3 linked regions of the Homo sapiens genome follow. The protein of the gene in region 1 purifies or fractionates together with the protein of each later gene. This does not show direct contact. Each region holds a gene or a part of one and is shown on either strand. Other genes may lie near its edges. The genes, in order: CARS1, MCFD2 and THUMPD3.

Region 1 (3,651 bases):
ATATTTCAACATAGCCAGAAGATCTGGAACATTCCCAATGCAAAGAAAAGGTAAACGTCTAAGGTGACGAGCATCCTAACTACCCCGATCATCACACACGGTGTGCATGTATTAAGACATCACATGTTCCCCATAAATTGCATAATTATTATATATCCATTAAAAAAACACATGTCATGGTCTTAGAGCTGCACAATGTTGAGTGCAGAAAACTCCTAAAATTCCTTCAGGTGAAAAAGCACTGTTCCCAAGAGTCTGAGGGGTGGGCTCAGCGCAGCCCCCGTGGCCTGCAAAGTCAACACAACCCAGGCTGGGCCAGGAGGGAGAGCCCACATGCTCTCAGGCATGCCCTCCTCACCTTCCCCTTCTTGAAGGGCTTTCTGATCTCCAACGGCCTCAGGCACCAGCTTCCCATAGGAGTGCTTCTCGCTAGAAGCAAACTTCGCTGTATCAAAGTAGACAGACCCATTGGAGACATAGCTGGAAAACAGAAAAGGAATTGGGTGGGTGCATCTAACAGACCCGAAAGTGTGTCAGCAGGATGACAGTAACAAAATAAAGCAGGGCTATAAAAGTGCGAAATCTGTGGCCTATCTACTCTCTGTGGTGGCCACTGAAAACCGTATCAGCTGTTTGGACTGAGTGGGACACCAGGGCCCATCCCGCTGCGGAGGCAGCCTGCCTGCCCTGGGCAGCTCGTCCCTCTGCCTGGCGTCCTGTGACCCATGCAGCTCCCACCCTGCCTTGCTCAGGGCTGCTGCCGTCCTCATTCTTGTGTGGCCTCACCTTTCCCTGAATGTCCACACTCTACCCATTAGCTTAGCTGAGGCTCTTGGCCTCCAAGAAGCACTCTAGATTACTCCAGTCTGGAATGACCTGTCCTCTCTGAGCTTCGGCTTGCCCATGCCTCTCGGCTTGGCACAGGCTCTTATGCTGCCCCACAGTAGTTTGTGTGAAGTGGGGAGAGAAGCAGCGCTACTGCTTAAGAGTCTGCCCCGTTCCTGGCACTGTCACAACCTCTTGTTTCTCTTTCATCCAGCCTGTGTGGTTCCTGTGGGAGGGAAGCAATCTGAGGCTGGACACAGTGGGTCTCTGGGAGCAGGCGCACGGTACAGTGCTGAGCACTACTGTGGGCGGCAAGCCACCCAGGTGCCGAGGCAAGAGACCGAGGGCACGAGCTGTTCCAGTATAATAAAATATAAAATAAGAATAGTTATACCAGATATAGATCTTAGATATGATTATATATGAATATCATTAATCATTAGTTTGTAGCAATTACTCTTTATTCCAATATTATAATAATCCTCGCTCTATAATCATAATCTAGGAAAAACCAGGCCATACAGAGATAGCAGCTGAGGGGACATAGTGAGGAGTGACCAGAAGACAAGAGTGTGAACCTCCTGTTATGCCCGGACACGGCCACCAGAAGGGTTCCTTGGTCTAGTGGTAACGCCAGCGTCTGGGAGGATGCCCGTTGCCAAGCGGACTGTGGTCTAGCGGTAGCGTAAGTGTCAAGGAAAAACACCCGCTACTTAGCAGACCGGGAAAGGGAGTCTCCCTTGCCCCGCGGGAGTCTGGAGAAGACTCTGCTCCTCCACCTCTTGTGGAGGGCCTGACATGAGTCAGGCTCGCCCGCAGTTATCCGGAGGCCTAACCGTCTCCCTGTGATGCTGTGCTTCAGCGGTCACGCTCCTAGTCCTCCTTCATGTTCCATCCTGTACACCTGGCTCTACCTTCTAGATAGCAGTAGCAAATTAGTGAAAGTACTAAAAGTCTCTGATATGCAGAAATAATGGCGTAAGCTGCCTCTCTCTGTCTCCTCTCTCTCTCTGCCTTGGCTGCCAGGCAGGGAAGGGCCCCCTGTCCAGTGGACACGTGACCCACGTGGCCTTACCTATCATTGAAGATGGCTCACTCTCCTTAACCTACCCCTTTGTCTTGTATCCAATAAATATCAGTGCAGCCTGGCATTCGGGGCCACTACCGGTCTCCGCGTCTTGGTGGTAGTGGTCCCCCGGGCCCAGCTGTCTTCTCTTTTATCTCTTTGTCTTGTGTCTTTATTTCTACAATCTCTCATCTCCACACATGGGGAGAAAAACCCACCGACCCTGTGGGGCTGGTCCCTACACACTACAGACAGATAACCGGGTTCCTGTCTGCATTTCCATTTGTTGGCCATTTCTGAAAATGCTTACTTTGGAGATTGAGACAATACGGGCCAGGGAAGTGTATGATGGATTTGCCAACAAAAAGTCACTAAAATCATAGCCAAGCGATAGATGCTGATGAAATGCATCCTCCTTCGGGATATGACACCAGGACTAGCACTCTCAAAATGTCTACGCAATGGCACTGATGTCTGTGAAGGCCCAGCAGTATTCGCACTCACCATTATGCAGCTCTGGGGCCCCATGACTGATGGTCTTGGCTGCCGAGCTTCCCAGCAGATTCTGGGTTAGGTTCTCACCATGGCCCCCAGGACAGTGCAGACCCATGCTCCTCAGCCCCTGGGTGGGCCCAGAGTTGTAGGAGGAAGTCTGCTGGGACTTCTAGCTACGCAGCCCCAGAACACCTGCTCCTCTGCTTCCCAAACTCAGGCTCAGAGCTGGGGAGCTCCTCCCTGTGCGATGTTCTGCAGCCCTTCCCTCCCTAGGGAAGGCCCTTGTGCTTACCCGTAACCGTTGTCCACAATCTTCTGGACAAAGTTCACAATTTCTGGCACATACTCACTAACCCGGGTTAAGACATCTGGAGGGAGAACCTGTGCAAGACATGAGAATGTCCTGGGATTTTCCCTTCTGAAAACCACGCGCTCCATAAAAACGTTCCCAATTCATAAAACGAAAAGCCCATTATGCCCCTCAACTCAAGTTCAATGTTGACTTGGCCGCTTAATTGAGCTGGCCTTGCCAAAACAGGAATTTAGAAATCAGGGCCCTTAGCGCAAGAGAGCCAGCACAAGACAATCGTGACACTTACATTCAGAGCTTCCATGTCTCTGTGGAAGTCCCCCTCCCAGAACTTGGGCAGCTTGGAGAAGATGGAATTGTCAGTGACATCACAGCCAAGTGTAGAATCCAGCCAGTCAGAGAGCAAATCCTTGGCTTCTTCCAGCAACACCTGAAGAGAAAGAAACAAAAATCCAGCAGCGGGCCACACACTTCACATGAGAACATCTCGTGCAGCTGGTGTGAGCCCATCAGTGCCCTGAATTCAAAGGTGCTGACCTTGACCTGTGAAGAGCCACCGTCTCCTAGGGAGACTGTGATGCTTACACAACTGGCTCGGCAGGGACAAATACAAGACTCTACAAATGGGCAGGTCTCACATGAACTCAGAGGAGCAAAGCCAAGGGGACTGTGGGTGCAGAGGCAAAAAGAGGTGGGAGGGCCGAGGTGGGCCTGGTGAGCATGTGCAGCCTACCTGGGCCGTGCAGGGCAGGGTTATGGGCAGAGGCTGGGCAGGAGCACACAGTGTGTCACCTACAGCACAACCCCTTGGTGCATTCAGGAAAAGATTCATGACGGACACAGCCAGAGGTTAGGAGAGATAGGCAGGGCACTGGTCCCAGAGGTCTCAAAAGCCCCATCTCCCTGACGCCATTGACTGAAGATGCCATCCCCACTTGACACACCATGGAATGGG
Region 2 (3,651 bases), on another chromosome or scaffold:
CAAGAATAATCTTCCAGTCCCTTCAAGCTTTCACGTGTTGCTTGGCACTCTGCAGGCACTTCAGGAAACCTCGTGAGCCTTCCCCTGCCATTTGAGTGACTTGGAGTGCCCAGGGTCATCCCACAGTCTCAAAGCAGAGCTGGCATTGGGCCGTGTTTGACAAGCTCTCTTCCTAACCTTACTGCTTCATCAGGTTTCCCAGGATCATACCATGTCAAGCCCTGAACGAAACCTTTGCTCTGATGCTCTGCCTTCCTCTTCTGTGTTTCCCATCTCACAGATATTGATGACCATGAGATCCCTGCTCAGAACCCCCTTCCTGTGTGGCCTGCTCTGGGCCTTTTGTGCCCCAGGCGCCAGGGCTGAGGAGCCTGCAGCCAGCTTCTCCCAACCCGGCAGCATGGGCCTGGATAAGAACACAGTGCACGACCAAGAGTACGTATTCAGCCCGGGCTGTGGTCCAGTGGCCTCCCCATCATCTGCAGCTGAGCCAGCGGCAAGGGCATGCTCAGTCCTCCTTTCCTTCTTCCTGTTTCTATGGCTCCTTGACATTCTTCAAGGATGATTCTTATTCCTTATTGCCACCTATAAGTCAGGTATTCTTTTTTCATCATTGTATCACAGGTGGAAGATCTTTAGGCCCAAATGGGGCACATTACTTGTCTGAATCCGGTCTCTCCTTTTTTTCACCACAGACAGACACACACACATACAAATAGACACACAGGTACACATACACAGTCATAGTAGCAGAATCCAGAAAATAGCTAAGGTTTCTTGACTATAACAAGACCTTTTTTAAATCAACACATTCAAACATTGAATCATTTGTTGCAGCTTTTGTCTTGGGCCAGTTAGCCTCACGCATTATACTCGGTTATCCTTTGTTTTTAAGGCTGGGTGCAGTGGCTCACACCTGTAATCCCAGTGCTTTGGGAGGCTGAGGCAGGTGGATTACTTGAGCCCAGGAATTCGAGACCAGCCTAGGCAATATAGGGAAAACCTGTCTCTACTAAAAAATTGCAAAAAATTAGCTGGATGTGGCAGTACATGCCTATGGTCCCAGCTACTTGGGGGGCTGAAGTGGGAGAATCAACTGAGCTTGGGAAGTTGAGGCTACAATGAGCCAAGATCACGCTCCTGCACTCCAGCCTGGGTGGCAGAGTGAGACCCTGTCTCAAAAAAAAAAAAAAGTTTTAAAGGACATATTTTTAAATTGATGGCCTGAAAATGTTATAACAAAATTCTAATAATAAAGAGGAAAGAATACCCTAATCCTGCCAGCATAACAGATGGTCTATTTGACTTTTCCTGCTCCTCTCAAGGCCTTGTCTATCTCTGTGTAATCCTTGAGTGTGGTCTGCCACTGCTGGTGTTTGTTTTTCTGAGCTGGAGGAAGTTTAAGATCTTGAACTTTTCAGAGTCCTTAAGATTTCAGCATGATCCCAGTATCTGTCAATTGGCCTGAACCTGACTGTTGATTTTTAGGCATATCATGGAGCATCTAGAAGGTGTCATCAACAAACCAGAGGCGGAGATGTCGCCACAAGAATTGCAGCTCCATTACTTCAAAATGCATGATTATGATGGCAATAATTTGCTTGATGGCTTAGAACTCTCCACAGCCATCACTCATGTCCATAAGGAGGTAGGTCTGGCAGTGGCTTGGGGGACTGTATCACAGAAAGGCTTCCCTTTGTTAATTTGGTCCCCAGTCTTGTTGACTTGTGTTGTCCTTATGTGCCAAGAGTGCTGCTTCTCCACTGGGCATGATGGCTCGCATCTGTAATCCCAGCACTTTGGGAGGCCAAAGTGGAAGGATCACTTGAGCCAGGAGTTCAAGACCAGCCTTGGCAATATAGTGAGACCCTGTCTCTACAAAACAAACAAAACAAAAATTAAAAAATTAGCCAGGCCTGGTAGTGCATGCCCGTAGTTCTACGTACTCAGGAGGCTAAGGTGGGAGGATTGCTTGAGTCCAGGATGTCGAGGCTATAGTGAGCCATAATCATGCCACCGCACTTCAGCCTGGGCAACAGAGTGAGGCCTTGTCTCAAAAAGAGAAAAAAAGAAAAGAAAAAAAAAGGTGCTGCTGCTTCTTTCTCTTCTGTGTTCTGCCTCTTTCTGTCCAACGATCCTTCCCGCAAAGGATAACTTGCTGAGGCAGAAGTCCCAGGGCTGGGCATTTGTATCTTTAAGTGCTACAGGCATTTCTGTTACACACCAGAGTATGAGAATCAGTGCCTAAAAGACAGACCGTATTCAAACTGCAGAGCAAGGGAGAAGTTGTTTAATGGTGAATTGACACCAAGGGATTCAGGGACGTGGCAGTAATTGAGGGCTTGTGTGATACTGTATGGTGCTCCAAAGTTTCTGAAGCCCTTTCAAGTAGGTTAGAGATCTCGTTGGATCTTTGCAACATCTTGAGTAGGCAGTGGCAGGCATTGTTAATACTTCCATTTTCAGTGGTGCATGCCTGTAGTCCCAGCTACTCATGATGCTGAAGTAGGAGGATCACTTGAACCTGAGAGGTTGAGGCTGTGGCAAGCTGCGATGTTGCCACTGAATTCCAGCCTGGGCAATAGAGCGAGATCCTGTCTCAGAAAACAAAAAACAAACAAAACCCTCCCATTTTCTAGGTGAAGACACTGAAATCAAGATCTTGTGCCAGGCTAAGCACAGTGGCTCATGCCTATTATCCCAGCACTTTGGGAGGTTGAGGCAGGAGGATCGCTTGAGCCCAGGAGTTCAAGACCAACCTGGGCAGCATGGTGATATCCCGTCTCTACAAAAATTAGCTGGACATAGTGATGCTTGCCTGTAATCCCAGCTGCTGGGGTGACGGGGTGGGAGGGTAGTGGGGAGGAACACCTGAGCCTGGGAGGTCGAGGCTGCAGTGAGCTGTGATCGTGCTACTGGACTCCAGCCTGGGTGACAGAGTCAGACCCTGTCTCAAAAAAAAAAAAAAAAAAAAAAAAAAAATCCTCGTGCCTCCACATTTAATGTCATTCCCCTTCTGCCACACTGCCCTCTATAGAGAGGAAGCAAGGCAAAGTTAGCCAGGTGAGTGGGATTACATTCGCTGCTAGGAGTGCAGGTGAGGTTTGAAGGCAGCAGGGAGCATGAATGATTTTGCACAGGAGAATGGCATTGTTTAGGGAAGATCCTTGGTTGTGGGAGACAGACTGAAGGACATGAGGAGAGACTAGTGTTAGGCGGAGGAATTAGGGGTCAGCAGTCCTGGCAGATGAGGATAGTGGTGGTGACAGGAGAGGGAATGGTGAATGTGGGAGATGTGGCAAAGGAAGAACCAGCCAAGGATGTGAACAGCCTCAGCCCACTAACCCTGCTCTTGGAGCATGGGAAATACTTTCTCCTCAAAGATCATAACAGGTTCTGCTCATCGGCAGTGCCTTCTTCCTCTTGTTTTGATGCCAACTTGTTGTCCAATTCGTCACTGTTTCTATTTTATCAGGCAAATTTGTGCACAGAGCTGACCCTCAGGAGGACTGGCACTTTTCCAATTAAAGAAGAATGAGCCATAATGAAACAAATAAGCAAAAGCCTATTTTGAAGGGCCTTCTTTTAACTGGCAAATGTAATTTCTAAACTGGATTATGATAAATTGACTCAATAATACATATTCTCTCT
Region 3 (3,651 bases), on another chromosome or scaffold:
AGACAGATTCTTGGGGGTTAATAGTGGGTTCTTATTGTAACATTGGTCCTGCTCTATCTCCTTGCTCCTACTCCTCAACACATGGCAATAGAATCCTTGGCAACCCTCTTGAGGGGGTAAGCACCCTGTACTCCAAGCCATTCCTGATGGTCAGGGGTGAATATCTGACCAAAACAATGTCCATCAGATCCTCTCTTCCAGGAATTTGGAACAAAGAGCTAAAAGCCCTAGGCAGTGTGGGTTGGTCGTTTGGAATTGGAAATACATAAATTTAGATGAGAAAGCATGTAGATGAGAAGAGACAAGAGTCCACAGGCTCTAAGGGGAGATAAAAATGGCTGCCTACATTTCTGGTGGTTTTCCAAGATGTGGTTCCTACCCTTCTTGAGAACCAACATTCAGTTTTTCTGTAGAATCCCCAAGATTTCTCTTTATCTTTCCAATAAACCCCTCTCTGGCACAATTATCACTTTTTTATCCTAAACTTGATTACTTAGGTTTTAAATATTTGCACCCAAAATAACACCCTCTCTGTATCCCTGGTTTCTACCATATGCCTGGCAGTAGATAATGCATATTTGTTAAATTAATGAAGACTAGAAGATTTTCCTTTATCAAATGGGCCCAATTTTCTATTATCGTCATTGAATTAATATGTTAGGAAGATAAAAGATTGGAAGAGAAGGAATACAGTCGTGTACTGCATGACAATCTTCCAATCAATGGTGGACCAAATATATGAATGCAGTAATTATAATACCATATTTTGCCCTATCCTTTCTATGTTTAGATACACAAATACCACTGCGTTACAACTGACTACAATATTCAGTACAATAACATGCTGTACAGGTTTGTAGCCTAGGAGCAATAGGAGATACCACATAGCCCAGGTGTGTAGTAGGCTACACCATCTAGATTTGTGTAGGTACACTCCATGAGGTTCGCACAATGATGAAATTGCGTGATGACACATTTTTCAGAATGTATCCCTGTCATTAAGTGATGCATGACTGGACTTAACTACCAGGACATACCAGGCACTGTATATAATAGGTATTTTGCATATGCTTCAGCATTTAATCCTCACTAATAATCCTTTAAGTCTCACATCAAATCCATTTTGCCATCTGGAAAACAGAAGCTTTAGAGAAAATAAACATTTTCAAGTGGTGGAAAGAAGCACCCAATAAAAGAGAGAAGGGCAAAGGAGAAGGAAAGATAGGTCGTGTACTCTGAAAAGCAAAAAATTCTAGGATGATTCCTGAGTTGCTGTGAGTATAAAGCTTAAAAATATAAGTAAAAGCTCTTTCTGTTCATTTACACGTTATACACATAAAAATCTCTGCTTTCATCTTTTTCACTGCACAGAAATGAAACAGCAAAATTTACTCTTATCTCCCAACACACATATCCTTGCTAAACAGAAATGTGGTAACCTCATTCAAGAGGCAGGTGAAAACTATTACTCTCATTTTAAAATCAAGAAAACCGGGCGCGGTGGCTTACACCTGTAATCCCAGCACTTTGGGAGGCCGAGGCGGGTGGATCACCTGAGGTCAGGTATTTGAGACCAGCCTCGCCAACATAGTGAAATGTCGTCTCTATTAAAAAAATACAAAAATTATCTGGGCGTGGTGGCAGGCACCTGTAATCCCAGCTATTCGGCTGAGACAGGAGAATCGCTTGAACCCGGGAGGCAGAGGTTACAGTGAGCTGAGATCTCGCCACTGCAGTCCAGTCTGGGCGACAGAGTGAGACTTTGTCTCAAAAAAAGAAATAAAGAAAACTGAGCCACCTATTAAGCAGTATTTTCAGATCACAAGGAGTCAATATTGGATAGAAGGGAAAGAAATAGATCATTAGCTTTCCATTCTATTCTTTATCCACTCTATTCCAACACAGTACCTCAAACACACATACACACAAATCAGTATTTTGAAGGGAACATTCAAACCAAGGTGCCACTTTAAGCTGGATGGCAAACTCATTTTCTTACCTGAGCATCCCATAGGCAAGAGTTGATCTAAGAGTTGTAGGTCCAAAATGTGTTATATTTCTTCGGTGGAGACTCTCTTCAGTCAATGCAATGCCCACAATGACTTCATTATCATGGATGTTCAAAAGAACCTATAGCAAAGTGGAACAAGACAAAATAGTTTTAGGATTGTTCAAACTGCGCTTAGTAATAAGACTTTTCTGACCTGGGCCGGTTCACCCCTCCTTAGGCAACCTGTTGGTCCCCTACTCCTGGGAGGTCACCATATTGATGCCAAACTTAGTGCAGACACCTGATTGGCATAGCGCACCACAGCCCAGAACTGTCTAAAAAGTTAAGACATTTAAAAAATACATATTAAAAAACCTCTAAGCCTTCAAAATATGTTTGTGTTATAAAAATTGGGGTGAAATCTGGTTGTAGCCAATAAACATAGTGAATTAAAAGAAAATAATAGATATTAAAATGAACGAAAAAAACTATATACTATATGATTTCATTTATATGAAGTTCAAAAATTGGCAAAACGAATTTTTGGTGGTAGCAGTCAGATTAGTGATTGCCTTGAGTGGGTACTGACTGGGAAAGGGCAAGGGGAGCCCGAGGTACTGGAAATAGTTTGTATCTCTATCTGGATGCTGTTTACACATCGTGTATATAAGTAAAAACTTACTGAAAACTTAAGATTTGTGTACTTAAGGGGTGCAAAGTGTATCTCAACAAAAAAGTTTTAAAAATTGGTAAAGTCTCAAATAAAAAGTCTTATTACACTGAGTGCAGTGGCACAGGCCCACAGTCCCAGCTACTCGGGAGGCTGAGGTGGGAGGACAGCCTGAGCCTGGGAGGTCAAGGCTTTAGTGAGCCATGATTGCACCACTGCACTCCAGTCTGGGTGATACAGCGAGACCCTGTCTCAAAAGTGAACTAAACTAAACCAAAATGTTCCCCAATCTTTCACTGAAAGACTTCCTGAGCTTAACCACAGCAGAAGCACAGCTGATACTCATACAGCACTTCCTAATGCAAAGCACTATTCTACACATTTTACATACATGGCCTCATCTCATATTCACATCCCCTAAGCTAGGTATTATTCCCTTTATAAATGAGGATACTGAGGCACAAAGACAGCTCCTCAGGAATTCCCTTTTTGAGACAGGGTCTCACTCTGTCGCCCAGGATTGAGTGCAGTGGCATGATCACAGATCACTGTGGCCTGGACTTCCTGGGCTCAAGCAATCTCTTACTTCAGCCTCCCAAGTACCTGGGACTATAGGTGTCTGTCATCATACTCAGCTAATTTTTTTTTTATTTTTTGTAGAGACAGGGTCTCCCTATGTCGCCTAGGCTGGTCTAGAACTCCTGGCCTGAAACAATCCTCCAATCTTGACCTCCCAAAGTGCTGGGATTACAGGTGTGTGTCACCACACCCAGCCTCCTCTGGGATTTAAACCAATGCAGCACGGCTCCAGAAACTCCTCTGAATCACCTTGCTAACTTTTAGACATCACTGTTCTGGTTAACCTATTCATTTTATTTTTTAAAATATTTATTTTATTTTTAGTGGAGACAGGGTCTCACTATTTTGCCCAGGCTGGTCTCAAATTCTTGGGCTCAAGCGATCTGCCTGCCAAGGCCTCCCAAAGTACTGG

Evidence for each region.
Region 2: the proteins of CARS1 (region 1) and MCFD2 fractionate together in Homo sapiens (co-fractionation; one large-scale study listed by BioGRID). This does not show direct contact.
Region 3: the proteins of CARS1 (region 1) and THUMPD3 fractionate together in Homo sapiens (co-fractionation; one large-scale study listed by BioGRID). This does not show direct contact.

Annotation. Positions count from the first base shown.
Region 1 is NC_000011.10:3,026,318-3,029,968, forward strand, and holds part of CARS1 (cysteine--tRNA ligase, cytoplasmic), read right to left. Parts: exon of another isoform or gene 3,127-3,651; coding exon 2,986-3,126; intron 2,768-2,985; coding exon 2,679-2,767; intron 481-2,678; coding exon 359-480; intron 1-358. UniProt on the Homo sapiens protein: Catalyzes the ATP-dependent ligation of cysteine to tRNA(Cys).
Region 2 is NC_000002.12:46,905,807-46,909,457, reverse strand, and holds part of MCFD2 (multiple coagulation factor deficiency protein 2 isoform A precursor), read left to right. Parts: intron 1-280; 5' UTR 281-286; coding exon 287-435; intron 436-779; exon of another isoform or gene 780-1,488; coding exon 1,489-1,648; exon of another isoform or gene 1,649-2,574; intron 2,575-3,651. UniProt on the Homo sapiens protein: The MCFD2-LMAN1 complex forms a specific cargo receptor for the ER-to-Golgi transport of selected proteins. Plays a role in the secretion of coagulation factors.
Region 3 is NC_000003.12:9,372,995-9,376,645, reverse strand, and holds part of THUMPD3 (tRNA (guanine(6)-N(2))-methyltransferase THUMP3), read right to left. Parts: intron 2,131-3,651; coding exon 2,000-2,130; intron 1-1,999. UniProt on the Homo sapiens protein: Catalytic subunit of the THUMPD3-TRM112 methyltransferase complex, that specifically mediates the S-adenosyl-L-methionine-dependent N(2)-methylation of guanosine nucleotide at position 6 (m2G6) in tRNAs.